Homo sapiens: one gene and its partners. Changing the gene in region 1 together with any one later gene gives a genetic interaction. Each region holds a gene or a part of one and is shown in the gene's direction. Other genes may lie near its edges. The genes, in order: GBF1, CREB1, UBE3D and SEC63.

Region 1 (7,024 bases):
GGAGGCAAGGACTTTGAGCAAGACATCCTGGAGGACATGTACCATGCCATCAAGTGAGTATACATAGAGAATAGTGCAGTATCTCTGTTAAGAAGAAGCACATTGCTTCCTTTCCCAGTTTTTAGAGTCATGTCAGACTGCAGTGACTCACATGCCCTGGATTTAGCCTCAGGACTTAGTTGGGCAGCCCCCTCTCTGCCAACTGTTTCTTCCTTAAAGAAGCCCAAATGATATTGGGACTCTAGTACTCTAAGCCAGGGTCCAAAGTGCTGCTCTTAAGTAGGATATCATGGCCCCATTTTCTGAACTTAAAACAGGTACATTTTCCTGTATAGATTACAAGATGCTGGCTGGTAGAGAACCCAAGATGGGCACTGGAGTGTGAGGCCCAGGTTACAGGTCAGAAATGGGCCACTTAGTTTTTTACTGTAAATCAGAAAAGGTAGAATTGTTCATTTTATCACACCTAGTAAGAATGTGTGATCTTACTATAGAACTAAAGGCCTCACTTACAGATAGGGCTTTGAGATTATGGGACACTTCCTTTCTTTCTGTCTGCTCCCACTGGTGGGTGGAAAGCAGACCACTGAGCTGCAGTTCTGATGACCTCTCATCAGTGGAGAGTGCTAGTATGGATGAACTCCTAGTCTTGGTTTGGAACTAGTCAGGTTCAAAGCAGTGCAACTGCTCCTTCCCTTACCTCCTGACAGGAATGAGGAAATTGTAATGCCTGAGGAGCAGACAGGCTTGGTTCGGGAGAACTATGTGTGGAATGTGCTGCTTCATCGAGGTGCCACCCCTGAGGGCATATTCCTGCGTGTGCCTACTGCCAGCTATGATCTTGACCTCTTCACCATGACCTGGGGCCCCACTATTGCTGCTCTCTCTTATGTCTTTGACAAAAGCCTTGAGGAGACAATCATCCAGAAAGCCATCTCAGGCTTCAGGTAGCCCAGCTTTGGCCTTGGTCTTCACCTCCCACTAGCTCTGTGAGCTAACATGGTTTTCTCCATGCCTCTCTGACTCCTACTGTTACTTCATTAGAATGGGGTTCCCCCTGAGTTTTTGGAGGGAGGCTGAAGCTTGGGTAGGCTCAGTCTTAAACAGAAACAAAATTAAAAGGTTTCTTCCTGGGACTGACTGGGGAAGAGCCCCATGCAAGCTCAGGGACTTGGAAGGGCTGCTTGGCCTTCCAGTGACTCTGTTTCTGGGATGGGGGGTAACATTACAGGAAGTGCGCCATGATCTCCGCCCACTATGGCCTCAGCGATGTGTTTGACAATCTCATCATCTCTCTATGCAAATTCACAGCTCTCAGCAGTGAGGTGAGCAGGTGCAGGAACTGTGTACTTGGAGCTCCAAAGGAGGACCTCTCTTTTAGCCATGGATCTACCCTTATCAACAGACCTGGTTGCCCTCAGCGTCTTCCCTCACTGCCCCCACTTGAATATACCAGAGCTTAGGCCATTTCTGTCTTGCACACTCTGGGATAAAACTAGTGTTACTTCATGTAATGGGGATGGGAAAGGAGATACAGGAGTGGGGAAGGCCTTAACTAGGTTAACCCACTCCCACCAGTATTATGGGGGATTGAAGCAGAGCCAACAAAAGGACCTGAGGGAACCATCATAGGCAGAGACCTAAGAGATTTTCCTTTCCAGACATTAGCTCGGCCTTAAGTCTGTTCTCTTCCTCTTTTCCAGTCTATTGAGAACCTGCCCAGTGTATTTGGAAGCAACCCTAAAGCCCATATTGCAGCCAAGACAGTATTCCATTTGGCCCATCGTCATGGTGACATCCTGCGGGAGGGCTGGAAGAATATCATGGAGGCCATGCTGCAGCTCTTCCGAGCCCAACTACTGCCCAAGGCTATGATAGAGGTAATTCTTAGTAGGAGACTAGTGAGCGATAACAAGGCAAGAGCTGCAACATTGTATGCTACCTGTACATAGAAGTAAGTGGTTGAGAGTAATGTTGGGCCTGATGCCTGCCACAGCTCACCAGGAATGCCTCAAATGTAAGACCACAGATCTTGGGGGATAGCTGTAAAAGAAGGCTGGTAGATGCCATTGCCAGTCACCAATTGGCACAATAGCATAGGGGCAGAAGACTAGAGGAGGAAATCCAGAGAACTTTGGTGGGTGGAGGCGGGCACAAATGCAAAGGACACATGGAAAGAAATTATTTTGACTTACTTTTCCAGGTAGAAGATTTCGTGGATCCCAATGGCAAGATCTCTCTACAGCGGGAAGAGACACCATCAAACCGGTAAGAGCAGACCAGAGGCTCAGGGGCTTGGGGAGGGAGAGTCAGAACTTTGGGGCTCACCAGGCCATGTGCCCTTTTTCTACAGAGGAGAGTCAACAGTGCTGAGCTTTGTGAGCTGGCTAACACTGAGTGGTCCTGAGCAGTCTAGTGTTCGGGGCCCATCCACTGAAAACCAAGAGGCCAAGAGAGTGGCCTTAGAGTGTATAAAGGTAACTGCCCATCCACCCCTGGTGAGAAAGCCTAAACACCTTCCTATTAGATGCTACTTGGTGAACTGAAGAATAAATCATCCAGGATTTGTAACCAGGGCTGACTCTGCCCTCTCCCCCTGGCTCTTGGGGACATTCTGTTCTCTTCAGCCTTTGTCAAAGACCCCCTCTCTCTTTTGCCCTCTCTAGCAATGTGACCCAGAAAAAATGATCACAGAAAGCAAGTTCCTCCAGCTGGAGTCACTACAGGAGCTCATGAAGGTAAAGGATGAAGAAAGGAAACATGGAACAACTGGCTGAATCTGGGAGGGGTGACAGGGACAGTATTATTTCTGTCAGGGCAGGGCCAGTGGTTGGCTTCTTTTCCATGCCTACTTTCCTGCTGCTGTTCCCCTTCAGGCTCTGGTCTCAGTGACACCAGATGAAGAGACATATGATGAGGAAGATGCTGCTTTCTGCCTAGAGATGCTGCTAAGGATTGTGTTGGAGAACAGGTAAGATGAGCGTAGTCTTTAGGCAGACCCCATGCTGGGCTTGTGCCAAAGGGATGGAAGCCATCTTGCTGAGTGGGCTCTGGGGAACTGTAGGCAGCAGGGGAGAAGCTTACTCATCATACCTGTCTACTTAGGGTATAATACCAATGAGTCCTGAAAGGCCTAGGGGACCTGTTGCCCAGTGGCCCCTCTGGCTGAGACTATCTTCATTCCTTTATGTCTACACAGGGATCGTGTGGGCTGTGTGTGGCAGACTGTTCGAGACCATCTATACCACCTCTGTGTTCAGGCACAAGATTTCTGCTTCCTTGTGGAGCGGGCAGTGGTGGGGTTGCTACGCCTGGCCATTCGGCTTCTCCGGAGAGAAGAGATCAGTGCTCAGGTAAGCAGAATGCATCTTGGAGAGTGGGCAGGTATGCAAGGGATTAAGGCCACAGTTGTCAATTATGAATATGGCCTGAGACAGAGAGTACATTTAGTGCCCCATAGCATGAGTCCAGTGACCAACCACAGGGCTGGTGCAGTCTAGCGGGTGGTACTGGGAGTGAGCCTGGAATGGCCTCAGGCATGGAGCTTGTGTTTGGCACCTCAGCCTCCTATGAATCTGCTTTGTAGGACTGGCCTGCTACTGCCTTATAATAGTCTCAGCCCTATACCTGGTTTCCTGTCATGCTTATGACCCTCTTGAGATCTCTTTGCTTAACTACAAAAAACAACAAGCATAGAACTAATAAGTGGATTCAACAAGGTCACAGGATGTGAGATCAATACACAAAAAGTAATTATATCTCTACATGCTAACAATGAACAATATGGAAACTGAAATTTAAAATACAATACCATTTACAAGGGTTCCAAATAAAGTGAAATACTTAATATATAGCTGACAAAACATGTATAAGATTTGTATGATGAAAACTACAAAACTACAAAATAAATTGAAGAAGATGTAAATAAATGAAGAGGCATACTATGTTCATGGATTGGAAGGCTCAACATAGTAACTTTGTCACTTCTCCCCAAATTGATCTGTAAATTCAACATAACTCCTATAAAAATCCCAGAAAGGTTCTTGTAGACATAGGTAAGCTTATTCTAAAATTTAGATGGAAAGGCACAAGCTCTAGAATAGCTAGAAAGAATAAAGTGGAAAGAATCACTCTCTCTGGGCCGGTTGCTGTGGTTCATGCCTGTAATCTCAGCACTGCGGGAGGCCACAGCGGGCAGATCACTTGAGGTCAGGAGTTCAAGGCCAGCCTGGCCAACATGGTGAAACCCCATCTCTACTAAAAACACAAAAATTAGCAGGGTGTGGTGGCACACACCTGTAATCCTAGCTACTTGGGAGGCTGAGGCAGGAGAATCGCTTGAACTCAAGGCGGAGGTTGCAGTGAGCTGAGATCGCGCCACTGCACTCCAGCTGGGTGACAGAGTGAGATTCTGTCTCAAAAAAAAAAAAAAAGAATCACTCTGGTATTAAGACTTACTGTCCACTTTGGGGGGCTGAGGCGGGTGGATCACGAGGTCAGGAGATCAAGACCAGCCTGACTAACGTGGTGAAACCCCGTCTCTACTAAAAATAGAAAAATTAGCTGGGCGTGATGGTGAGCGCCTGATTGCTACTCGGGAGGCTGAGGCAGGAGAATCGCTTGAACCTGGGAGGCGGAGGTTGCAGTGAGCCAAGATTGCGCCACTGCACTCCAGCCTGGGCAACACAGCGAGACTCCATCTCAAAAAAAAAAAAAGACTTACTCTCGGCTGGACACAGTGGCTCACGTCTGTAATCCCAACACTTTGTGAGGCCAAGGCAGGCAATCACCTGAGGTTGGGAGTTCGAGACCAGCCTGACCAACATGGAGAAACCTCGTCTCTACTAAAAATACAGAATTAGCCAGGCATGGTGGGGCATGCCTGTAATCCCAGCTACTCAGGAGGCTGAGGCAGGAGAATCACTTGAACCTGGGAGGCAGAGGTTGTAGTAAGCCAAGATCACACCATTGCACTCCAGCCTGGACAGCGAAACTCTGTCTCAAAAAAAAGACTTACTGTATAGCTATAGTAGTCAAGATTATGTGGTGTCGATGGAGGGACAGACACGTAGATCAATGGAAAAGAATAGAGAGACCAGAAATAAGCTCAACACAAATATGTTCAGTGGATTTTTTGACCAAGATGTAAGAACAATTCAGTGGAGGAGGAATAGCCTTTTCAATAAGTGGTGGAGTGATTAAAATCCATAGGAGGAAAAACCAAATGAACCTTGACCTAAACCTCATACCTTACAGGAAAATTAACTCCAATGGATCATAGATTTAAATGTAAAGCTATAAAAACTTTAGAAACAGGAGAAAATCTTCAGGATCTAGAGCTAAGCAAAGAATTTTTAGCATGTTTGGCAGTCCTGTGGATCTGTCTCTTGCCTCAACACTGTCTGGATGGAACAGATCCGGGGGAGACTCTCTTTCAAAAAAAGTAATAATTTTTAGACTTGACATTAAAAGCACAATCTAGAAAAGGAAAAATTGATAAGTTGGGCTACATTAATATTTTTAAAAGTTTTGTTCTATGAGAGCCTATGTGAAGAGGATGAAAAGACAAGCTGTAGACGAGGAGGAAATATTTGCAAATCACATATTTGAAGAAAGGTATCTGTAATATAAAAACTCTCAAAACACAACAGTGATAAAACAATCCAATTATTAATAGAAAATGGACAAAACATAGGAACAGATGTTTCACCAAAGAACACATACAGATGGCAGATAGGCACATGAAATGAAGATAGCATCATTAACCATCAGAGTACTGCAAACTAAAACCACAATGAGGCTCACACCTGTAAGCCCAGCACTTTGGGAGGCTGAGGTGGGTGGATCACCTGAGGTCAGGAGTTTGAGCCCAGCCTGGCCAACATGGTGAAACCATGTCTCTACCAATAAATACAAAAATTAGCTGGGCGTGGTCACACACACCTGTAGTCTCACCTACTGAGGAGATTGAGGTGGGAGGATCGCTTGAACGCAGGAGGTTGCAGTGAGCTGAGATCGTGCCACTGCACTCCTGCCTGGGTGACAGAGCAAGACTCCAAAAAATAAAAACACAATGAGACATCACTACCCACTTTTCAGAATGGCTGAAATAAAAAGTAGTGACAATACCAAATGCTGAAAGGACGTGGAGAAACTGGGTCATTCATATATTGCTGGGTGGGAATGTAAAATGGTACAGCTACTCTGCTGGCAGTTTCTTATAAAATGAAACATATAATTACCATACAACCCAGCAATTGCACCCTTGGACATTTATCCCAGAAAAGTGAAAGCTTACTTTCTCATAAAAACCTGTACATGAATGTTTATAGAAGCCTTAGTTGTAATAGCCAAAAACTGGAATCGGCCCAGATGACTTTCAATAGGTGAATAAACTGTGGTACATACACACCATGGAATACTATTCAGCAATTTAAAGCAACAGACATCTCCAGGGAACTATGCTGAGTGAAAGAAAAGCCAATCTAAAAAGGTTATGTAATATATAATTCCACTTATATAACATTTTTGAAATGACAGAACTTTAGAATTTGAAGACAGGCTGGGCGCAGTGGCTCACACCTGTAATCCCAGCACTTTGGGAAACTGAGGCTGGTGAATCACTTGAGGTCAGGAGTTCGAGACCAGCCTGGCCAACATGGTGAAACCCCATCTCTACTAAAAATACAAAAATTAGCCAGGCGTGGTGGCTCGCACCTGTAATCCCATCTACTTGGGAGGCTGAGGCAGGAGAATCACTTGAACATGGGAAGCAGAGGTTGCAGTGAGCTGAGATCCTGCCTGCACTCTAGCCTGGGCAACAGAGTAAGACTCCATCTCAAAAAAAAAAAGAATTTGAAGACAGATTGCTAAGGATTAGGGATGGGGGCAGGAAGGAGGAGGTGGGTGTGGTTATAAAAGGGCAACATGAGCTGGGCATGGTGGTGCATGCCTGTAGTTCCAGCTACTCTGGAGGCTGAGACAGGAGGATCACTTGCGCCCAGGAGTTTGAGGCTGCTGTGAG
Region 2 (7,445 bases), on another chromosome or scaffold:
GTGATTATAGAAAAGCTCTCAAATACTACTTTCTCTTTGAAGCCTTTTATAATCATCTTATGGGACCTTCCCCCTATTCTGGACCTCTTTCAAGATACTTTTCTTATACTCTATCAAGTTACATCCATGTGTGCTCCTCTTTCATCTCCCTGATATTGACCACATTTTGCAATTGGAAAACTGAGTCAAAAATGGGGGATCACCTGTAGTCCCAGCTACTCAGGAGGCTGAGGGCAAGAGAGTCACTTGAGCCCAGGGGTGTGGGGCTGTCACATGCGATGACCGCTCCTGTGTACAGCCACTGCACTTCAGCCTGAGCAACACAGCGAGAGACTGATCCTGGAAAAAATTTCTTTTAAAATGCAGGTGGCTTCCAAATCCCAGAGACAAAACTTGGATGCTGAAAGGAGAAATGTCAGATAGTGAGATTGAAAATGCTAGAGTATATCCGAAGAGAGAATATCCAAGAGAGAAATGTCAAAGTAGAGAGGCTGAAAATCTAGAGTATACCCAAAATGTTAGTAGTAAAATAACTTGCATTGGAATGAATGGATGATTGAATAAATGAATGAACAAAGTTAGGTGGGAACGGAGGTCATTTGAGCAGAAGTCAAGAAGAATATATGTTTTAATAATTGTTTGAGGCCCACTGGTCTGACAGTAAGGGCCCAAATGAATAGGGAAAGCTAGCCTCCAGTTAGAAGACACCTAGGAAGTTAGCAAAATAATCAATGATAATAGAGTCTAAATGAAGGTTAGTGTATATAAAAAGGAAGAATGAATATGAGGACATTTTTAAATAAAAACTCACCATATTTGGTGGGTGATAATTATAGGTTATGAGTAAATAATTCCAAAGTTTTTTGATATCATGTATAGAGCCACGGTAAGAAGAGCAGGAAGATGAACTCAATTTTGAAAACGTATTTGACACGAGGATAAGCTATCCAAGTAAAAGCTAGTAATAGGCAACATTTTTCCTAACATTGTTCCAAGTATACTTCACATGTATTATGTCACGTAATCATTACAATAACACTATGAGGTGCTATTATCATCTTTATTTTACAGATGGGAAAACTGAGGCACAAGAGTGAACAATTTGCCCAAAGTCATTAGCTAATAAGTGGCTGAGCCAGTGCAATGAATTCACCCCCACCCCTGTCTCCTGCAAATTCGTATTTTTGAAATCTTCACCCTCAATGTGATGGTATTAGGAGATGAGGCCTTTGGGAGGTAAACCCCTTGTGAATGGGATTAGTGCCTTATAAAAGCAACCCGAGAGCTCTTGCTCTCTTTCTGCATTGTGAGGTAAAGGGAAAAAACAGCCATCTACAACCCTGAAGAGGGCCTTCACCAGAACCTGACCATGTTGGCAGCCTGATTTCAGATATCCAGCCTCCAGAGCTATGAGAAATACATTTCTGTTGTTTATAAGCCACCAGTCTATATGGTACTTTACTACGGCAACCTGAACTCACTGAGAGCCAGGATTTGAATTCAAATGTTGAGAAAACTTTGCCCGGGACCACTCAGAAATTCACTATTTATTCGATAAATACCTAACAAGTACCACTATATTCTAGACATTGTGCTGTTGCTAGGGAGAGGAAAAGCTGGTAGTGAACAAGACAGACGTGGTCCTTACCTGCACAATTACATGGACACTAAACAAATAATGAGAAGTAGGAATTGGAAAAGAAAGTGATAAGTTACAGTTAAGTAGGAGGAATGGGTGACAGAAAAAAATTCCAGGGGAAGGGAAGGGCATGTGTAAATGCCCTGAAGTGAGAGCCTACAGTAGGGAATAAAAAGAGGAGAGCCTGGAAAAAATTAAAATACTATGGCAGGAGTGCAGGCAGCTAGGGGGACAGATGGAGAGGCTGGAGAGAAAGACAAGTACAGATAATGGAGCTTAGACAATGTGTGGTAAGCAAAGGGAGACCACTGGAGGAATTTAAGCAGGTCAATGATCAGATTTATATTTAAAAAATTACTCTGGCAGCAGTATGGCAAATGTATTGGAACGAGGCAAGAGCAGTTTTGGAGGACCTGAATGGGTTACTGTGGGACTTCAAGCAAGAGGCAACAGTGGTTTAGACTAGAATGGGAATGAAAAAATGGTCATGGGAACAGAGAGAGGTCACAAATCCAATTTTCCAGGGAGCAGACAGATGTAGGTGATTCTGCTGTGTGTTGGAGGTGTGCTAGGTTTCTGGCATGAACTGGGTAGATGTTAAGATACCCTTTACTGAACCAGGGACTATGGGAGGAGCGTTTTGAAGGAATTATGATATACGGGTTGAGTTTGAAATGCCCTAAGTCATCCAAATGAAAGTGTACCAAAGGCAGTATGCTGGGAACTATGAATGTAGGATTCCAGAGCAAGATCTAGGCTTGAGTTATGGATTGAAGAGTCTTTGACAGAGGGTATTTGATGCTGCTGGGAGAGCATAAGACCACCTAGGAAAGTGTATGGGGAGACTCAGTAAGAGGGCCAGGGTTCAGCTCAGCATGATTCCAATGTGTAAGAGGTAGATCAAGGAGGAGCTGGTTGTTAAAGAGCAAACTCAGGTAGGGAGGAAACCTGGGACATAAGACCAGAGGGAAGAGGGTATTTGGAAGCAACTGTGGTCAATCGCGTCAAATACTGGGATGAGGGCTTGTAAAATGAGGACTGAAAATGATCCGCTGCATTTACAGTCATGAAGCTTGTCTGTGGACAATTCAGAGCCACTTCAGGTGAGCGGTGGGGACACTGGAGAGGGCTGGGAGGTGGGACATGAAAGACTGTCCATGGGGTAAGAGACAGCTGCAGTTGTTGGAGAGCAATTTAGGGAGAAGAGAAATCTTTTTAAAGAATTGAAAGACTTAAGCATGTTTAAATACCAGTAAGAAAGAGCCGGTAGAGAAGGAAAGGTTGAGAGTAACAGAAGGAAAGGAGACTCGTTAAGGGCAAAGTCCATAAGAAAACAGTAGGGTACCTGGAGTACCAGGAAGGACAACTCTTTCTTTACAAGAGAAGTGAGTCATGGGCGGAGTCCAGAATCGAACCCTCTCTGCTTCCTAAAGACACGTCTCCTTTAAAGGACAGAAAAAGAATGATTAAGACTTGAGGCCGGGCGCGGTGGCTCATACGTGTAACCCCACCACTTTAGGAGGCCGAGGCGGGTGGATTACCTGAGGTCAGGAGTTCCATACCAGCCTGGCCAACATGGTGAAACCCCGTCTCTACTAACAACACAAAAATTAGCCAGGTGTGGTGGCAGGTGCCTGTAATCCCAGCTACTAGGGAGGCTGAGGCAGGAGAATCGCTCGAAACCGGGAGGCGGAGGTTGCAGTGAGCCGAGATCGTGCCACTGCACTCCAGCCTGGGCGACAAGGGCTAGACTCCGTCTCATTAAAAAAAAAAAAAAAAAAAAAAAGACTTGAAACCCCAAGGAGAGGGCTGCAGAGTTCACTATCAAGGAGAATGGGGACCTAGTGGTGCCGTCCTGAGAGACCTCTGAAAGAACAATTCAGTAGTTTCCAGCCACGGAAGTCCCCCTGCTGGGTTTAGGGTGCAGTGGGTGCGAATCCCTGCTGTAGAAAACAGGCTGAGGAAAGAAAGCGACACAGGATGTTGTCTGGAGAAAGGCGGGGAGGTAGGATGGGGCATATTTCCAGGGGTCCGGGCAGGTTGTGTGGCTTGGAGGCCTCCGAGGGCCGTCGACGTCAGCCATGGTCCGGGCAGAGCCCCGCAAGGTGCCACAGTATCGGGGCCAGCGCCCCCCGGAAAAGCATGCTCCGCTGGCGGCCGCCAGGTTTCTCCGCGGAGTCTCGGAAAGGAAAACCCGTCCCCACGGGGGTCCCACGACGCCCCCGGGTCCCAGGCCCCGGGACGTTGGCAGAGGCGCAGCAGACCTTCTTCCCCAGCCCGCACGGCTCCAGCGGTCCGGCCGCGTCCCAGCCCGGGCTGCCCGTCCCCCGTCTCCCGGCGGCGTCGGAAAGTTCCCGGGGCTGGCGGCGGTCAAGAGCAGAGCCAGGGCAGCCGCAGCCGCCTTCTAGCCCGCCGCTCACCGCCGCAGGGGCAGGCCTGAGCGGGGGTTTCCACCAAGTCGCCGACACCCCTCGGGAATTCCCCCACTGGGCCACACACAAACCCCGCTTCCTCCTTCAAATTTCCGCTGCCGGCTTTACCGATGCGAAAGCCGCGGTGGAGTTTAGACCACTCCTCCCGGCGCCGGGCTCAGCCCGCCTTCGCCTTCCCTCTCCCCGCGGAACCCCTTCTCGTCGCCCGAAGAAACCCGAAGGTCTTCGGCAAGTTCCGTCCCCAGCGCGGGGGCGGGGCCGCTCGAGCTGCTCCGGGCCTAGCTCGGCTGTTTCCGTGCGCGGCCGCTGCGCACTCGGCACTGGGCGGCGCTGGCTGGCTCCCTGGCTGCGGCTCCTCAGTCGGCGGCGGCTGCTGCTGCCTGTGGCCCGGGCGGCTGGGAGAAGCGGAGTGTTGGTGAGTGACGCGGCGGAGGTGTAGTTTGACGCGGTGTGTTACGTGGGGGAGAGAATAAAACTCCAGCGAGATCCGGGCCGTGAACGAAAGCAGTGACGGAGGAGCTTGTACCACCGGTAAGAGGAGCAGGAGGAGGAGGCAGGAGCCAGAGAGAGCCGGGGGGACGGAGGGGGGACGGGGAGGCGCCGGACACCCGCGCTTGGGGCCTTCCCCTCGCAGGAGGGGCCGCGGTAAAGATGGAGCCTCCGCCCGAGCCCCACAACATCGCCGCCGCTCGCAGCGAACAAAGAATAATGGCGGCGGACTGGAGCCAGCGGCGGCCGGGGCGGCAGCGACTCTGCCTGCAGCCAGCGGCGGCGCTCATGGCGGGGGGCGGCGGGCGGCGGGCGGCGGGCGGGGTGGGAGCCGGCGGCCGGGGGTGTGTGCGGGCGGCCGGCCGCGGCGAGCTGGCGCCCGCGTTCCCGCCGCCGCCGCCGGGCCGGGCGCGGAGCCGGGAACCCGGAGCCGCCCCGGGGGAGGCCGCCCGCTCGGCCCGGCGCTGCCCCCCGCGCCGCTCGCTCGTCCGGCCCCCGCCGCCCGCCTCGCCCCCGGCCCGACCCGGCCGGGCCTCCGGGGCAGCCGCCGCCTAGGTGCCGGTGGGGGATGGAGGAGGAAGAAGGCGACAGTTGAGGGCAGAGGAGGTGAAGGTGCCTGCTGCCTTCCCGGTGGCTTCGGTGCCTGCCATGCCCGCTTCGCAAGGGGAAGAGCTGCAACGTCTGACCTACTCTTCTCTCCACTCTTTGTGCAATAAAGTTCGAAACCCAAGGTTTCCTCTCGTGCTGTATTTTATTCGTGCCCTTTCCCCCCCGCTCCTACACCGTTGAGGAAATGCTGCTTTCTGCCCTGTGTTGCTTAGTTGAGAGATGAGAGCTTGTGCTTTTGGGGGGAATTTTTGACTCCCTCACCCCTTTGCTTTTTTTTTTTTTTTAAAGTCAGTCATGGAAATGCATGCTTTTTGGGAGAAAGGGTGCTAAGAAAAACATTTATAATAACTTTTTAAACTGTTGGGATCTTATAAAAGGGAAGCTGGTGTTTGAAAACAGTTTCGGTTTTAACCCTTTTTAATAAGGTAATCATCACTTGAGATCTATCATTCTGAAACACTTCGTTGGAACGAGTATCAGCCGATGTACTCTTGTTTTACATCATTTCGCGGGGTGCAACCTTGCCAACCGCGTTTGGGTCATCTGGATCTCCCCTCACCCTCCGTCCCACTCCCCCTACCATATTTCCCACGAATTTCTGTGTGAACTTTAATGAGAGATTGATTTAATACTACTACTAAAAATAGACATTAAAGTATCCATTATTTGTCTCATGCAGTAGGTAACCCCCGTCTTGAGATTGACAATTTAAGCCACAAGCTGTATTTTTTCTTCGCCTGTTGGGAAAAGAGGACAGCAGAAAAGTCATTGACACATTAAAAATTAAAAGACAGTTTTTGAAGGACGTGCGGTATGACCTATTTAAGTTTGTAATACCATCTCAAGTTATAATTCTAACCTCAGCTGGCGTCTAACTTCTGAAGGTTTAGTAGAAGATACTTTTGATTGCTGCCTATTGAAATCTTTTACATTTATGGCTCATTTCGTGATTTAAAAGTAAAGCCCCGAACAGTTATTTTAGGTGGTGCAAAAGACGAACAAGTTTGTTTTAAAAATACTTGTCTGTCACTGTATGATTGCATTGTGATTGATACGTACAAACCTTCTGGTTAAGAACAAATATTGATTGGCAGCAGAAGCACTGTCTTATTTTTCTGTATTCTAGTCACTTTTCCAAAACGTGCTTTGCTGTATTGCTTCTCTTTAAAAGACCACATTGGCAATTTGTCATTTCCAAGAAAATTAAGAAGAGGCAATAAAGGCAGGTTTTCTATAAAGATTGGGGAAATGATTTTATTTCCGAGCACTGAAAAAATTATAGTATTGATAATGGTAGCTTACCATTTTTCCTTTATGTTGTTCCGCAAGCCACTATCAGTAGAGTAGAATTTTTTTTCTTGTTAAGAATATAAGTCGGGCGCGGTGGCTGAGGCCTGTAATCCCAGCACTTGGGGGGTCGAGGCGGGCGGATCACTTGAGGTCAGGAGTGCAAGACCAGCCTGGCCAACATGATGAAACCCCATCTCTACTAAAAATACAAAAATTAGCCGGGTGTGGTGGCACGCGCCTGTAATCCCAGCTACTCGGGGGGCTGGGGTTGCAGTGAATTGAGATCGTGCCATGCACTTCAGCCTGGGCGACACAGCAAGACTCCGTCTCAAAGAAAAAAAAAAAAAAGAAAGAATATATGACTCTTCATTTGTGAGATTTTTAAAAAATTGTTCACTGATGGCCGAGTGCGGTGGCTCACATCTGTAATCCCAGCACTTTGGGAAGCCGAGGCAGGCGGCTCACGAGGTCAAGAGATCGAGACCATCCTGGCTAACATGGTGAAACCCCGTCTCTACTAAAAATACAAAAATTAGCTGGGTGTCGTGGCGCGTGCTTGTAATCCCAGCTACTAGGGTAGCTGAGGCAGGAGAATCTCTTGAGCCCAGGAGGTGGAGATTGCAGTGAGCCGAGATCGCGCCACTGCCCTCCAGCCTGGTGACAGCGAGACCCCATCTCAAAAAAAAAAAAGTTTACTGATAAGTTCTTTCTTTAGTCTTGCCCGAGAGATATTTTAAATTGTATTTTTTATTTTTATTTTTATTTATTTGTTTTTTTGAGACGGAGTTTGGCCCTTATTGCCCAGGCTGGAGTGCAGTGGGCTGGTCTCGGCTCACTCACTGCAAGCTCCGCCTCCCGGGTTCAAGCAATTCTCCTGCCCCAGCCCCCCGAGTAGCTGGGATTACAGGTGTGAGCCACCGCGCCCGGCCTGTTTTATTATTTATACATTCATAATTTGTGATTCTTAGCAATTCCAGGTGAAACTT
Region 3 (7,026 bases), on another chromosome or scaffold:
TTTATTCTATCACCATCAGTTGAAAAGGCCATCATTTCTCCCATTAAAATAACTCAGTCTTCATGAGAAATCAGTTGACTATACTGTTTGCATAGTGTGTCCTTTCTACCTTTTTAACCTTTCTTATGTCTTTCTGTATAAAGCAAAAAGCTGTAAAAATACTGTATTTCCCTAAAAATAGCATAAAACTGTATGCTAGTTTTAAAAATATATAGTTGGGTGATTTTAAATCTGTTCTGATGATCTGTGTGTTCTAATTAAAATGTTTAGTATATTTTATAGTTAATTTAAATATTGGTGTTCTTGTTCCTAACTGCTATGGTTTGGATGTGTTTTGTCCCTATGTTTTCTCACTTTGATCCCCAATGTGGCAGTGTTGAGACATAGGGCCTAGTGGGAGGTGCGTGGTTCCTGAGGGCAGATTCTTCTTGAATAGATTAATGCCCTCCCATGGAGATGGTTGGGTGAGTTCTCTCTCAGGAATGGATTAATTCCTGCCATAGTGGGTTGTGAAAAAGAGTCTGGCTTCCAAAGTTTACATTCACAGATGTAAAGATCTATTTATATTAAGATATCTTAGCATTTTGGGATAAACTTTGGCCATTCATTTATTCAATCCACAGATGTTTATTGTGTTCTTACTCTAGTGCCAAAAATTCAAATTCTAAGTGCTGAGAATACAGCCATGAACAGTAACAACAGCAAAGACAAAAACACCTGCCTTTGTTGAGCATAGGGTTTAATGGTGGCAGTAGAGAAGAGGCGGCAGAGAATATACAAAATAAATATATATTTGATAGAAGTGGAGAAAAAAATTAAACAAAAAAGGAATGGGGAGAAAAAAGTTACAATCTTTTATTTCAAATGAGAAACTAACATTTGAGTATTAAACTGTAACTGGTGAGGTGTAGAACTGCCATACCTGGTGGGAGACAATTTCCCTTTGAGAGAAAGTGAGTATGAAAGGGTGCCTAGTTCAGAGAGATGCGGGTGAGTTGGGGGAACACATAGTAAAAGATCTTATGGCAGTGTGCTGGTACATGTTTAATAACCTACTCTCCATGAAAATAAACAAAAAGACAAACTAAGGTCTTGATTTGAAGCATTTGTTGATTTCTTTGGTGTGAATACTTTCACCACGTATGACCTTCAGCCTACCAACTGGGTGAGGTGAGTTGACCTGCTTTGCAGAACTCCTAGAATTTTAACAACAGGTTCTCCAAAGCTTGTAGCAGCAGGGCCTGCTATACCACTGTGCCTTATGGACCATCGAAAGGACTTTAGCTTGTAGTTAGAGTGAGAGATGAAGTCATTGGATAGTTTTAAGCAGTTGTGATACCTGACAGAATACAAGTCAATGGTGAAGAAAGCCTCAAGTATGAAATTATTGTATGAACTATGTCAATCAAACTTAGTCTTAAAGTAGGAATTCTCCTAAAGAACCATCATCCAACACTCACAATTGGGAAATGTGTTGCTACCATCTTACATCATTCATGTTTTACCAGTTGTCTACATAATATCCCTAATAACAGAAGAATCCAGTTCAGAATAAGGCATTGCATTTCACTGTCATGCTTCCTCTGTCTGTTTCAATCTAGAAGAGTTCCTCATTTTCCATTGACTTTCATGGTCCTGACACTTTGCAAGATGATAGTACAATCATTTTGTAGAATATCCTTCCATTTGGATTTGTCTTATGTTTCTTCAAGACAAGATTCAGATTTTGCATCTTTGGCAGGAATATAACAGAAGTGAGGCTTCCTGTCAGGTGGCACATGATTTTGCTTTGTTCCATCAAATTGGTTATGTTAACTTTGAGCACTTAAAGTAAGATAGTGTCTGCCATGCTTCTCTACCTTAAAGTTACTCTTTTTCTCTTCATAATCAGTAATTGGAGAGGTATTCTGAGATTATGTAAATACCCTGTTCCTCATCAGAGTTTCATTTTATTCATTTGTGTGTCAGTAAGGATACATGATTCTTACTGTGGGTTACTCAGTGGGTTTTATTTTTTATTTTATTCAATGGGCTACTTTTTTGTTCATATTATACCAGATGTGGCCAAGGAAGTCCTTTCTGGATGGTTTCTGCGTCTTTTTTGGTAGGTACCTGTCATTCTTTGATTTCTTCATGTTCCAGCAACATGTTCCAGGCATATTTCATTCTTTCCCTGTTACAGCCCTGGATGTAGTCATTTTACTGAGGAACTTTGTTTCTGGTTTGTTCATTTCGTTTTTTAAAGCAGAAAATGGCCTTTACAAACCAAGATCTGGGCACTAAGTGTACTCATCACTGTTGGATGTCGCTTCTCCCAGAACTAGGGTATGTGTGTATGACTTATATATGATGTCTATGTATGGTTGTGCCTACATACCTATGTACATACATGCATTTACAACCATCAATATTACTGTATCTATTTGTAAACATTGAAAACCATGACTTCACACAGGTATTTCTAATTCTGCCCCACCACCATAGGGTCTATTCTAGTTTCCTCGCTTTCTCTTTTTGTAACTCCATTCTCCCACAGTGAGAATCATGGCCCTCATTGTCCTAGTGGCATTTATTTATTTTGTCAGTCTCCCTCTATGTAATTAATAGTCTGCTGGCATCCTTTGCCACCTCCCCCTGCTCATTGTTGACACTCTCCTCACCTGCTTGGACCCTGTTATGGACTGAATGTTTGTGTCCCCTCAAAATGTACATGTTGAAGCCCTAACCCCCAAAGTGATGGTGTTAGGAGATGGGGCTTTGGGAGGTAGTTAGATTTAGATGAGTTCTTGAGGGCGGGGCCCCCCTGATGAGATTAGTGTCCTTATATGAAGAGGAAGAGGCACTGAACTTCCTTACTCTGCCATGTCTGTTGTTTAAGCCACCCATCTATAGTATTTTGTTATAGCAGCTGAGCTAAGACAGGCTCTGAAACCCCATCCTGAGCTGGCCTCACCTCCTGTTCAGATTTCCTCCTCACCTGTCTTGGGATTTGACACCCCTGCTGAGTGGTCCTCCTGGTGGATGCCCTCCACAGCCTGCTTGGTTTCTCATATCCATGCTGGGCCACTGTGTCACCACCCTTGCACTGATGCCTCCCTTGCTTGGCCCTATGGATGCCCTCCACAGTCTGCTTAGTTTCTCAAATCCGTGCTGGGCCACTGTGTCACCACCCTTGCAATGATGCTTCTCTTGCTTGGCCCTATAAAATGACTAAAGTTTTTGGGACTGGGAAGAAATGTGATAAACCAGAGATGGGGTGGCAATGGGGACTTAGGAACCCAGTGGTATCTCTTGCGGCACTTGGAAGTGTCAACTCTACACAGTCTAGTTTGAAAGTCATTGAGGTAGCAAATGGACATTGTGTTATCTTTAGAGCAGTGGTCAGAGAACTATGGCCCATTGGCCAAATCCTACCTGCAGCCTGTTTTGGTACAGCCTGTGAGCTAAGAGTTGGATTTTTCTTCTGTATCTTTTTTTCTTTTAGACAGGTTCTTGATCTGTCGCCCAGGCTGACATGCATTGGCGTGATCATGGCTCACTGCAGCCTCCTGGGCTTAAGTGATCCTCCCCATCTCAGCCTCCTGAGTGGCTAGGACTACAGGTGCGTGCCACTATACCCAGCTGATTTTTTATTTTTTATTTTTTTGTAGAGCCAGAGCCTTGCTTTGTTGCCCAGGCTGGTCTCAAACTTCTTGGCTCAAACCATCCTCCCACCTCAGCCTCCCAAAGTGCTAGGATTAGAGGAGTGAGCTACCTCGACCTGCTGATTTTACATTTTTTAAGGGTTGTTTTTTAAAAAATAAAAAGTATAATATGTATTCTACTTTGAGACCATACATGGCTCATAAAGCCTAAAATATTTACTATCTGGTCTTTCACAGAAATAAAGTTGCTGACTCTTGTTTTAGAGGATCATTATTTCTTAAACACCATTTCTTGAAATTGAACTTTTGACTCAGGTTTGAAACTGTCATCCCTGCAAAAAACTCAGATGCTTAATATTCTGTATTGCTAACTAAGTGCAGATCCATATGCTTTGAAAAGGAACTAGCCAGAAAGTAGCTATAAGATTTTCTAAGGCAGATTTCTAAGGCCTAACCAAGATCCACACCTGAGCACATGGTCTACCCTCTGTACTCAGATGACACTCAAGCAAATGGCTTGCTGTCTGCACTTAGTTGACACCATGTGGATGACCTGCTGTCTGCACTTAAGAGGGAGCCATGGTACTTTGTACCTCTGTTGCATTGCTAAGCGTATTGCAGTTTCAGAGGAGGGTCATTTCCATAGATGCCTTTATCCCCTCTATACTTTTGATGCCTGGGGGCTTTTGACAGGGACTGTGTTTTACTCTTTATTGCCTATACTGAGTAATTTGTGTTTGCTCTGAATTGGATTAGTAAGTCCTTTCACACCTGATATTCATACATCACTGTATCGTTTTCTTCATTAATTCTTTTTATTCTTAAAATTGACAGGTTTTTGTCTTGTATCATTGTTTCACTGAATCTTGGTCTCTTTATTAAAATCTTGTATATGAAATAACAGTACTTTGCTCTGATTTACTATAAAACATTATTTTAGTGCTCTTCTCAGAAGGAAGAACCAAAAATCTGTCCCAGGACTTGCATATTATGGTGATGGTGAAGGGCACTCTGATCAGATCTAAATCTAGTGTAGGTTGCTTTCCTTTATGATCTGCTTGCTGCTGTTTTTCTGGGGCAGTGACTTTAGAGCTCCTATTGAAGAGGAAGAAAGAGATCCTTGGCCATTTTTGTTTCTTTCATCATGTGGTTTTCATTGTGAGAAATAATTTGTTTGGGTTTTGTTTTTAATTACCAGAGAACCGAAAGAAGGAGGTATGCCCATGAATATTTCCATAATGCCATCTTCACTCCAGATGAAAACCCCTGAAGGCTGCACAGAAATCCAGCTTCCAGCAGAGGTCAGGCTTGTACCTTCCTCTTGCCGTGGGCTACAGTTTGTTGTTGGAGATGGACTGCACCTGCGACTGCAGACGCAAGCAAAATTAGGCACAAGTGAGTAATATTAGCACTTCTGCTGCTGTATTTACCTTTTTGTTATAAACCAAAGGTGATTTTTCCTTTGATAAGTTGAACTTTTCCCAGGTGAAGGGGTTGAGAAGCTCTAGGGTCTTTGTCAGCTCTGCCAGTTATTGGCTGTATGCAATTGAACATGTTACTTAACCTTTCTGAGGCTTCTTCCCTCCCTCCCTTCCTTCTTTCTTTTCCACCCACAGCAAAATTGAGCAGAAAGTATAGAGATTTCCCATTTACCCACTGCCTTGTTTCTTTAATTGTAAAATTTTCTGGCTCACAGATGGGAAGATTAAATCAGATGGCAGTTGTATAAGACCTGATTGATTTTAAAGCATTACATGGAAATTTATTCATTCAACAAATATTTTGGTTTGTGCTATGTGCTAGGCATCAATCTAGGTTCTGGGGATACAGAGTGAACAAGGTAGGGGAGGTGTCTGCTCTCATGGAGCTTACATTCTAATTGGTGGGAGCAGATAATGAGCAAACAATTTAAATATTAAGAAAAGTGTTATGATAATATAAAACAGAATAATGGGATAGGGAGTGACTAGGGTTGGCTGAAGGATGATCAGTGAAGGCCACTCTGAGGAGGTAATGTTTGACCTGAGTCCTGAATAAGGAAATCCTATCCATGTGGGGACTGTTCCAAATAGAGAAAACAGTACACAAAAGGTCCTACAGTTGAGTTTGATACTTAATTTGATTTTAACTTTTACTATGCCTGTTATATTTACAACATTTTGTAACTGGTATAATGATTCGGTAAGGCAGTGGAAAATTTGCTTTTTCTAAGACCTCAGGGTTATTTATTGTATAAAATTATTGGTTCATTACATCTATTACAATGTACGTAATATATGCTTTGGGGGATTAAAATTATGTCAAAGGGGGAAATAGGCTGTAAAAGACTTATGTGATGTTTATTATCAGAGAAAGATTGTAATTCTTTCAGCTGCACACTGACACTTCGCTGCTGCCTCATCTGTAATAAACCTTTCATCTGCGCTGTGTGGATCCTGGAGATGGGGTCAGGAGGAGTGTTTGGAAGAGCCATTTAGGAGATGTTGAGTATTCCCCTGAGTCTGTGCTCTTGGCTTTTGTGAGGAAAGAGAAGATAGAGAGGGTTTCATTTCTTTTTTACTGGAGAGCAATTTTTGCTCAAGTCCTGGGTTAGTGAATAACTAGTTTGAGTTGGGCAGGGTTAGTTTTAGGAACAAAGGGTAGGGAAAAGAGATGTCATGGCACTTAAATGTTGTAGGATAAATACTAGGAATGACTGTTGGAATAACCATAGCAAGAAGGTTAGGGTCACCGAGCTGGGAAGTAGACTCCCTGATTGCACCTAATAATGGGCAGAGAAAGTGTTGTTTCAGGGAAGAGGCCATGGGAGGCTGGATGTTGTGTTGTCATCACCTTCTCCTTCACAACAGTTACCTCTTTCACAAGAGTAACCACAGCAGGAATTTTGTGTTGGGTTCTGAGATTTGGGAAAGGCAAGCATGAAAGCCACAGTGGAGTGTTTTCTGGGATTGTGATTTTAGAGATGGAGGAATAGAGACCACCAGGGACATAGTATTGGGTTTTTGCCCATCCATATTCTGTATTCTGTAACTGAATATACAAATATCAAAACTGGAATTATTTTTAAAAATTTAAATCTGCAAACATTGTTTAAACTATAGGACAAAATAAATTGACTGCTATGTGCTGATTTGCATATTGTTTGTGTTCACTGGTCTCCTATTTCTTTACACTTTTAATATATTTTGCTCAAATATCTGAAAAGGAAAATTATCAAAGTCCTGTTCCATAGTGCATGAAAGAGTATGCAAAACAGATTCCTCAGCACTTAATTGCCTGAGTGCTTTCCATATAATAGATGGTGTATAAATATTTGTGGAATGAATAAATATGAATAGATATGTACTGGTGTGAACTTGAATCAAACTGTTTTGTAGGAAGT
Region 4 (7,026 bases), on another chromosome or scaffold:
GCAATGCAGTGAGGTAGGTTCTATTATTATCTCCATTTACAGGTAAAGAAACTGAGGGTAGAGCATGTAAGTAATTTTCCTGTATGGTTGAACTGGGATTAGAACATTGGTCGCTTAGCTTCAGAGCCCTGTGTGGTTTCCATACTGCTAGATAGAAAGTTAGGTGAACTATTATGGGTGTCAGTTTGCCCGTTTTACATCCGGCTCTCTGCTTCAGGCTTGCCTTAGTCCATATGCATATTTTGATGTATTTGTTTGCTCTTGCTCAAAATTGTGTTATGAAAATTAAGGTGAATACTTAAATGCTATTCTAATCATTATGAAAATTGTTGGGCACCACTTGGACTTTTTTCTTGGATTTACCCTAATAACTTGAGTTGTTTCTGTGGAATTACAGTTGTAGTAAAAGGATGTTTTCATCATAGTGACTTTTTTTCTGCAGCCCAGTTGCAGTATCTTGAATATGAAAGAGAAATCTTGAATTACTGCCTCATTCAAAGCTCTGAATAAGGAACTTTTTTCAGAAGTTTGCTGCAAAATAATTTGCCGACTTGTACTGACAGGAGGCTACTGAATAATCTTTATCTCACTTAATAAATAGTTATGTTCTGTCTTGGAATATTAATTTGTTTGGTTATTGGTGCACTTTAGACCCCATAGGGTCTGTTTGAGTGTAAACGCTGTGTTACTTTTCTAAAATCTGAAAAATTCTTTTTTTTTTTTTTTGATTTTTTTTTTTTTTTTAATTGATCATTCTTGGGTGTTTCTCACAGAGGGGGATTTGGCAGGGTCATAGGACAATAGTGGAGGGAGGGTCAGCAGATAAACAAGTGAACAGAGGTCTCTGGTTTTCCTAGGCAGAGGACCCTGCGGCCTTCCGCAGTGTTTGTGTCCCTGGGTACTTGAGATTAGGGAGTGGTGATGACTCTTAACGAGCATGCTGCCTTCAAGCATCTGTTTAACAAAGCACATCTTGCACCGCCCTTAATCCATTTAACCCTGAGTGGACACAGCACATGTTTCAGAGAGCACAGGGTTGGGGGTAGGGTCACCGATCAACAGGATCCCAAGGCAGAAGAATTTTTCCTAGTACAGAACAAAATGAAAAGTCTCCCGTGTCTACCTCTTTCTACACAGACATGGCAACCATCCGATTTCCCAATCCTTTCCCTGCCTTTCCCCTCTTTCTATTCCACAAAACCGCCATTGTCATCATGGCCCGTTCTCAATGAGCTGTTGGGTACACCTCCCAGACGGGGTGGTGGCCGGGCAGAGGGGCTCCTCACGTCCCAGTAGGGGCGGCTGAGGAGAGGCGCCCCTCACCTCCCGGACCGGGCGGCTGGCCGGGCGGGGGGCTGACCCCCCCACCTCCCTCCCGGACGGGGCGGCTGGCCGGGCGGGGGGCTCACACCCCCACCTCCCTCCCGGACGGGGCGGCTGGCCGGGCGGGGGGCTGAACCCCCCACCTCCCTCCCGGACAGGGCGGCTGGCCGGGCAGGGGGCTGACCCCCCACCTCCCTCCCGGACGGGGCGGCTGGCCGGGCAGAGGGGCTCCTCACTTGCCAGTAGGGGCGGCCGGGCAGAGGCGCCCCTCACCTCCCGGACGGGGCGGCTGGCCGGGCGGGGGGCTGACCCCCCCACCTCCCTCCCGGACGGGGCGGCTGGCCGGGCGGGGGGCTGACCCCCCACCTCCCTCCCGGACGGGGCGGCTGGCCGGGCAGAGGGGCTCCTCACTTCCCAGTAGGGGCGGCCGGGCAGAGGTGCCCCTCACCTCCCGGACGGGGCGGCTGGCCGGGCGGGGGGCTGACCCCCCCACCTCCTTCCCGGACGGGGCAAATCTGAAAAATTCTGAAGCACATTTGTTCTTAAGGATTTTAAGTAAAAGATGAGGACCCCCGTAGTACAGTTTTGGGGAAACACAACAGCATATATAAGTATTTTTATTTTTTGAGATGGAGCCTTGCTCTGTCACCCAGGCTGAAGTGCAGTGGCGTGATCTCGGCTCACTGCAACCTCTGCTTCCCGTGTTCAAACGATTCTCGTGCCTCAGCCTCCTGAGTAGCTAGGAAAACTGGCGCGAGCCACCATGCCTGGCTTATTTTTGTATTTTTAGTAGAGATGGGGTTTCACCATGTTGGCCAGGCTGGTCTCGAACTTCTGACCTCAATTGATCCACCTGCCTCGGCGTCCCAAAGTCCTGGGATTACAGGCGTGAGCCACTGTTCCCTGGCCACAGCAGCATATTTTAATACTTGTTTTTGAGGCTTAGTTTATTTAGTTTTCCTGTGAAACAGTTAAGTAGCCAAATACAAAAATGTAGGCATGCGTTTGAATTTCAGACTTCTGACAGTATTTTCAGAGATAGCATGTGCATGAAAGCATGAAAAGGTTTGCTCTGGCAGTTACACAACCTTAAAGTTCAGTTTAAGTAATTTTTTTTTTGTTTGTTTTGGCATGAAGTCTCGCTCTGTTGCCCAGGCTCCAGTGCAATAGCAAGATCTTGGCTCACTGCAACCTCCACCTCCCAGATTCAAGCAGTTCTCCCACCTCGGCCTCCCAAGTAGCTGGTATTACAGGTGCCTGCCACTACGCCCGGCTAATTTTTGTATTTTTAGTAGAGACAGAGTTTCACCATGTTGGCCAGGCTGGTTTCCAACTCCTGACCTCAAGGGATCTGCCCACCTCGGCCTCCCAAAGTGCTGGGATTACAGCTGTGAGCCACTGTGCCCGGCCCAGTTTAACTAATCTTTATTGAGGTTTTTTTTTGTGTGTTTTCTGCAACACATTTGGGACTTTCAATTTTTAAGGTTGACAGTCGTTTCAGCATGGCTGTTTTGGAATTAGTGGGCTCTTGAATACACCAGAAAGCATAGCACCATTTCACAGCTTGTAAAGTCTGCGGTTTGAAAAATGGAAATAGTTCGTTTATTGGCATATTTGACATGTTAATTGAACGTACCTGTTATCTAAAACATTATTAATGGAATACTTTTGCCTTGATTTCTGCTTAACATGTTTAGCTAAGCGTACTTATAATTAATACCCCTTTTAGTAGTTATTTGTTTTACTCTCTTGGTTTGCAAATTGGCTGAATAAAATGAATATTTCTTCAGACAATTAAGGACAAAAGCTCTGTATGCAATGATAACACGGAGGGCTTAGATTTCCTTGGCATAGTGATTCTTAACCCTGGCTACACATTAGAATCACTTCGGGAACTTTTTTTTTTTTTTTTTGAGATGGAGTCTCGCTCTGTCACCCAAGCTGGAGTGGAGTGGCGCGGTCTCAGCTCACTGCAAGGTCTGCCTCCTGGGTTCACCCCATTCTCCTGCCTCAGCCTCCCGAGTATCTGGGACCACAGGCGCCCACCACCACGCCTGGCTAATTTTTTGTATTTTTAGTAGAGACGGGGTTAGCCAGGATGGTCTTGATCTCCTGACCTCATGATCCGCCTGCCTCAGCCTCCCAAAGTGCTGGGATTACAGGCTTGAGCCACCGCGCCCGGCCCACTTCGGGAACTTTTTAAAACACTTGTACCCATCCCCAGATACTCTGATTTATTTGGTCTGGAGTGGGTGTTATGTACTGGTATTTTTTAAATATCCCTATATGATTCTAAATTGTAGCTATGTTTGAGAAGTGCTGCTTGGAGGAGAGCTTCCTTAGTAATGGTCTTTTGCTGTAGTTGCCATTTTGGGAGGTAGTATATTTGTTTTGCTATGTGCTCTTTGCTAACAACAACAACAAAATCCAAAAAACTAATGTGTTAGCCTTTTTGTTTTACATAGCTAAGAAGCACTTACAGAACAGTAACGTAAAGTTCTGGGAGTTAAAAGCCAGATATTTTTGTCAAACAACTTTAATGATACAAGTTTACAATCAGTTTATCATAGTTGTCTATTAATGGCTTCCAGAGTATTTACCATTGTGCTATGATTGGAGCCTTATGTAATTTGGATATCCTTAACATTTTGAAATAATTGCACATAATTACCTTAACACTACCCATCTTTGGTATTGCCAACAATACTGTGCTGTGACCTTTTGTGTGTACTGCCCACTTTGTGCTTTCTTGTAATTGTTAATGTTTGTCTTTCCTAGTGCTTTTAAAATGAGAAGTGTTCTTAATGTTTATGTGGAATTTCAATCCAACCATTATTTGTAAGTGCATAATTTTGTTTACTGCTTTTTTGATTTACAATAGAAGAGTTATCACTTTAAACATTTTATATCATTAGGCTTTCATTGATATATTTGACAAGAGTATTATCTGACAAGAGAAAATAACTGATTGCTTGTAATTATTAGAATTTCGAATAATCAAAAGCATGCTTTTATTCTTTCCGTAGGTTATGGAAAGAATTCCTTTTGAATTGAGATAAAATGTATCATTTAAAAAAAGTTTTTGTTGACTCCTTGATCTTACTTTTGGGGCTTGATCTTCCCTTTTCAAAACTTACTTAACCTTACTTTTTCAAAATGCCTGGTTTTGAAATGTGGCTCTGCAGCCTACTGTAATTTTAGGCAAGTTATTTAACTTCCGTGTGTTTCAGTATACTCATCTGTATTGGTTACTGATTTAACTTCTGTGTATCTCAGTATACTCATCTTTATTGGTCATACTCATCTGTTACGGTCAGAGAAGATACTTTGTATGATATCTGTCTTTCAAAATAAAATATCTTGTGGCTTAACATATAGTCTATCCTGCAAAACGTCCCATGGCACTTCTGAACAATGTATGTGCTGCTGCTGTAGGGTAGTGAGCGTTGTATATGTCTGTTAGATCTAGTTGGTTTGTGTTAAGTCCTCTATTTCCTTATCTTCTTTTTGGTTGTTCTATCCATTTTTGGGGATGGAGGGTGTATTGAAGTCTGAAACTATTATTGTAGCACTGTCTGTTTCTCTCTTCAGTTCTGTTGGTTTTTGCATTGTACATTTTGATGATCATTAGATACGTAAATGTTTATAAATGTTATATCTTCTTGCTGTATTGAACCTCTTACTAATATGTAATGTCTTTTATCTCTTGTAATCTTTTTTGTTTTAAAGTCTATTTTGTCTTATAGTCACCACCCTGCTATCTTTTGGTTACTGTTTCCATGGAATATTTTTTCCATCCTTTCACCTTCAATCTGTTTGTGTCTTTGGATATAAAGTGAGTCTCTTGTAGATGGACGTAGTTGGATCAGGTGCTTTTAATCCATTCTGCCAGTCTTTTGATTGGAACATTTAACCATTTACATTTAAAGTAATTACTGTTAAGGAAGGAGGGCCAGGTGCAGTGTTTCATTCCTGTAATCCCAGCACTTTGGGAAGCTGAGGTGGGAGGAACACTTGAGTCCAGGAGTTTGAACCAGCCTGGGCAACATAATGAGACCGTGTTCCTACAAACAAACAAACAAAAAAATATTAGCCAGGCATGGTGGCACGCACCTTTAGTCCTAGCTACTCAGGAGGCTGAAGCAGGAGGATCACTTGAGCCCAGGAGATCGAGGCTGCAGTGAGCTATGATCATGTCACTGCACTCCAACCTGGATGACAGAAGGAGACCCTGTCACACACAAAAAGTAAAAAGAAGGACCTCTGTCATTTTGCTATTTGTTTTCTATAGGCATATATCCTTTTGTTCCTTATTTCCTGCATTACTATTTTTTTGTTTAGCTGATTTTTTTTGTAGTGAAATGTTTACATTTCTTTGCATTTTCTAATTTTTATTTTATTTTATTTTTAAATAGAGACTGGGTTTTGCCATGTTGCTCAAGCTTGTCTCAAACTCCTGGGCCCAAGTGATCTATGTCTCGGACTCTCAAAGTGCTGGGATTACATGTGTGAGCCACTGCTCACATCTCATTTTCTTTTGAGTATATTCTGTAGTTACTTTTTGTGTGGTTACCATGGGGATTACATTAAACATCCTAAATATTGTAATTTCAATTTATACCAGTTTAACTTTGACATATAAAAACTCTGCTCCTTTATAGCTCCTTTCCCACCTCTTTCAGTATTTGATTTCCCCTAATTACATCTTTATACATTGTGTGCCCCAAAGCATAAACTAATAATTCTTTTAAATGCATTAGTTTATTGTTTAGAAAACAAAGTGTGGATGTAGGGGCCAAGGGAAACTTCCCTTTTGCCCTCTGAAGATTGGCTGAAAAATCAACTCAGACAAGGTGGATTAATTGGAGGAAAGACATACACATGTATTTAATGTGAACATGGGGCGAACCACAGAGTGATTCCCCACATCCCAATGTAGTTCAGAAGCTTATATACCATCCTGGTGAAACAGGTTATGGGAAGGGGGAGAAGAGGAATTCTGTTGATAGGATTGCTAGGGACAATGGATCAGAGAACAGAGATTAACTTGTACATTATCTTGTGAAGGGTCTGTTTAGGTGTGGTTACCTTCTTGGTCCTACAGGAGGAGAAGAAAAGCAGTTGTTCGTTTTGGTGGGTCTGGATCTTAGGCAGATGAAGGCTTTGGGATATGGTGGGGGGCATCAGGAGGGCAGGGAGGAAAGTCAGAGAGACCTTGAGGCTTCTTCATTCAGCATGTCAAAATGCCATATTTTGGGTATCACTGAGCCCCAACATGGAGGTACAAACCAAGGAACTAAAATTGACCAACAGCCTTCGTAATTTACCCTCCAAGCCTTTCCCGGAAAGTTGCAAGCCTTCAGTAGACTCCAGAGTTACATCTAGACTCAGCTCTGTTGCTGTTCAGTGAGTGAGTGCTAGCTAGCCTGAAGGTGGGTAGTGCGGAATGCACTCACGGTAGCACTTTGAGCTAGATTCATGTATTATCTCATTTTATTCATGAGAAAACTGCGTCCTAGAGGAGGTTACCAACTTTCCTAAAGTCATACAGCTACCAGGTGGAAGACTGTTTGTTGGACTCAACTCTGTCTTATGCCAGAGCATCTCTTGTTAGCCACTACTCTCTGCTGCCTCCTGTAATTAAGTAAATATAACACATTACGATATGTGTTAAAATGGCTAGTGGAAGGTGCTTTGGGAGCA

The links.
Region 2: changes in GBF1 (region 1) and CREB1 together harm fitness more than expected from each alone (negative genetic interaction), as found in Homo sapiens cells (one study listed by BioGRID).
Region 3: changes in GBF1 (region 1) and UBE3D together harm fitness less than expected from each alone (positive genetic interaction), as found in Homo sapiens cells (one study listed by BioGRID).
Region 4: changes in GBF1 (region 1) and SEC63 together harm fitness more than expected from each alone (negative genetic interaction), as found in Homo sapiens cells (one study listed by BioGRID).

What each region holds. Positions count from the first base shown.
Region 1 is NC_000010.11:102,367,508-102,374,531, forward strand, and holds part of GBF1 (Golgi-specific brefeldin A-resistance guanine nucleotide exchange factor 1), read left to right. Parts: coding exon 1-53; intron 54-710; coding exon 711-947; intron 948-1,231; coding exon 1,232-1,325; intron 1,326-1,703; coding exon 1,704-1,880; intron 1,881-2,203; coding exon 2,204-2,268; intron 2,269-2,353; coding exon 2,354-2,477; intron 2,478-2,666; coding exon 2,667-2,738; intron 2,739-2,876; coding exon 2,877-2,971; intron 2,972-3,199; coding exon 3,200-3,353; intron 3,354-7,024. UniProt on the Homo sapiens protein: Guanine-nucleotide exchange factor (GEF) for members of the Arf family of small GTPases involved in trafficking in the early secretory pathway; its GEF activity initiates the coating of nascent vesicles via the localized generation of activated ARFs through replacement of GDP with GTP.
Region 2 is NC_000002.12:207,525,533-207,532,977, forward strand, and holds the start of CREB1 (cyclic AMP-responsive element-binding protein 1), read left to right. Parts: upstream 1-4,429; 5' UTR 4,430-4,602; intron 4,603-7,445.
Region 3 is NC_000006.12:83,055,839-83,062,864, reverse strand, and holds part of UBE3D (E3 ubiquitin-protein ligase E3D), read left to right. Parts: intron 1-4,842; coding exon 4,843-5,039; intron 5,040-7,026. UniProt on the Homo sapiens protein: E3 ubiquitin-protein ligase which accepts ubiquitin from specific E2 ubiquitin-conjugating enzymes, and transfers it to substrates, generally promoting their degradation by the proteasome.
Region 4 is NC_000006.12:107,948,183-107,955,208, reverse strand, and holds part of SEC63 (translocation protein SEC63 homolog), read left to right. Parts: intron 1-7,026. UniProt on the Homo sapiens protein: Mediates cotranslational and post-translational transport of certain precursor polypeptides across endoplasmic reticulum (ER). Proposed to play an auxiliary role in recognition of precursors with short and apolar signal peptides.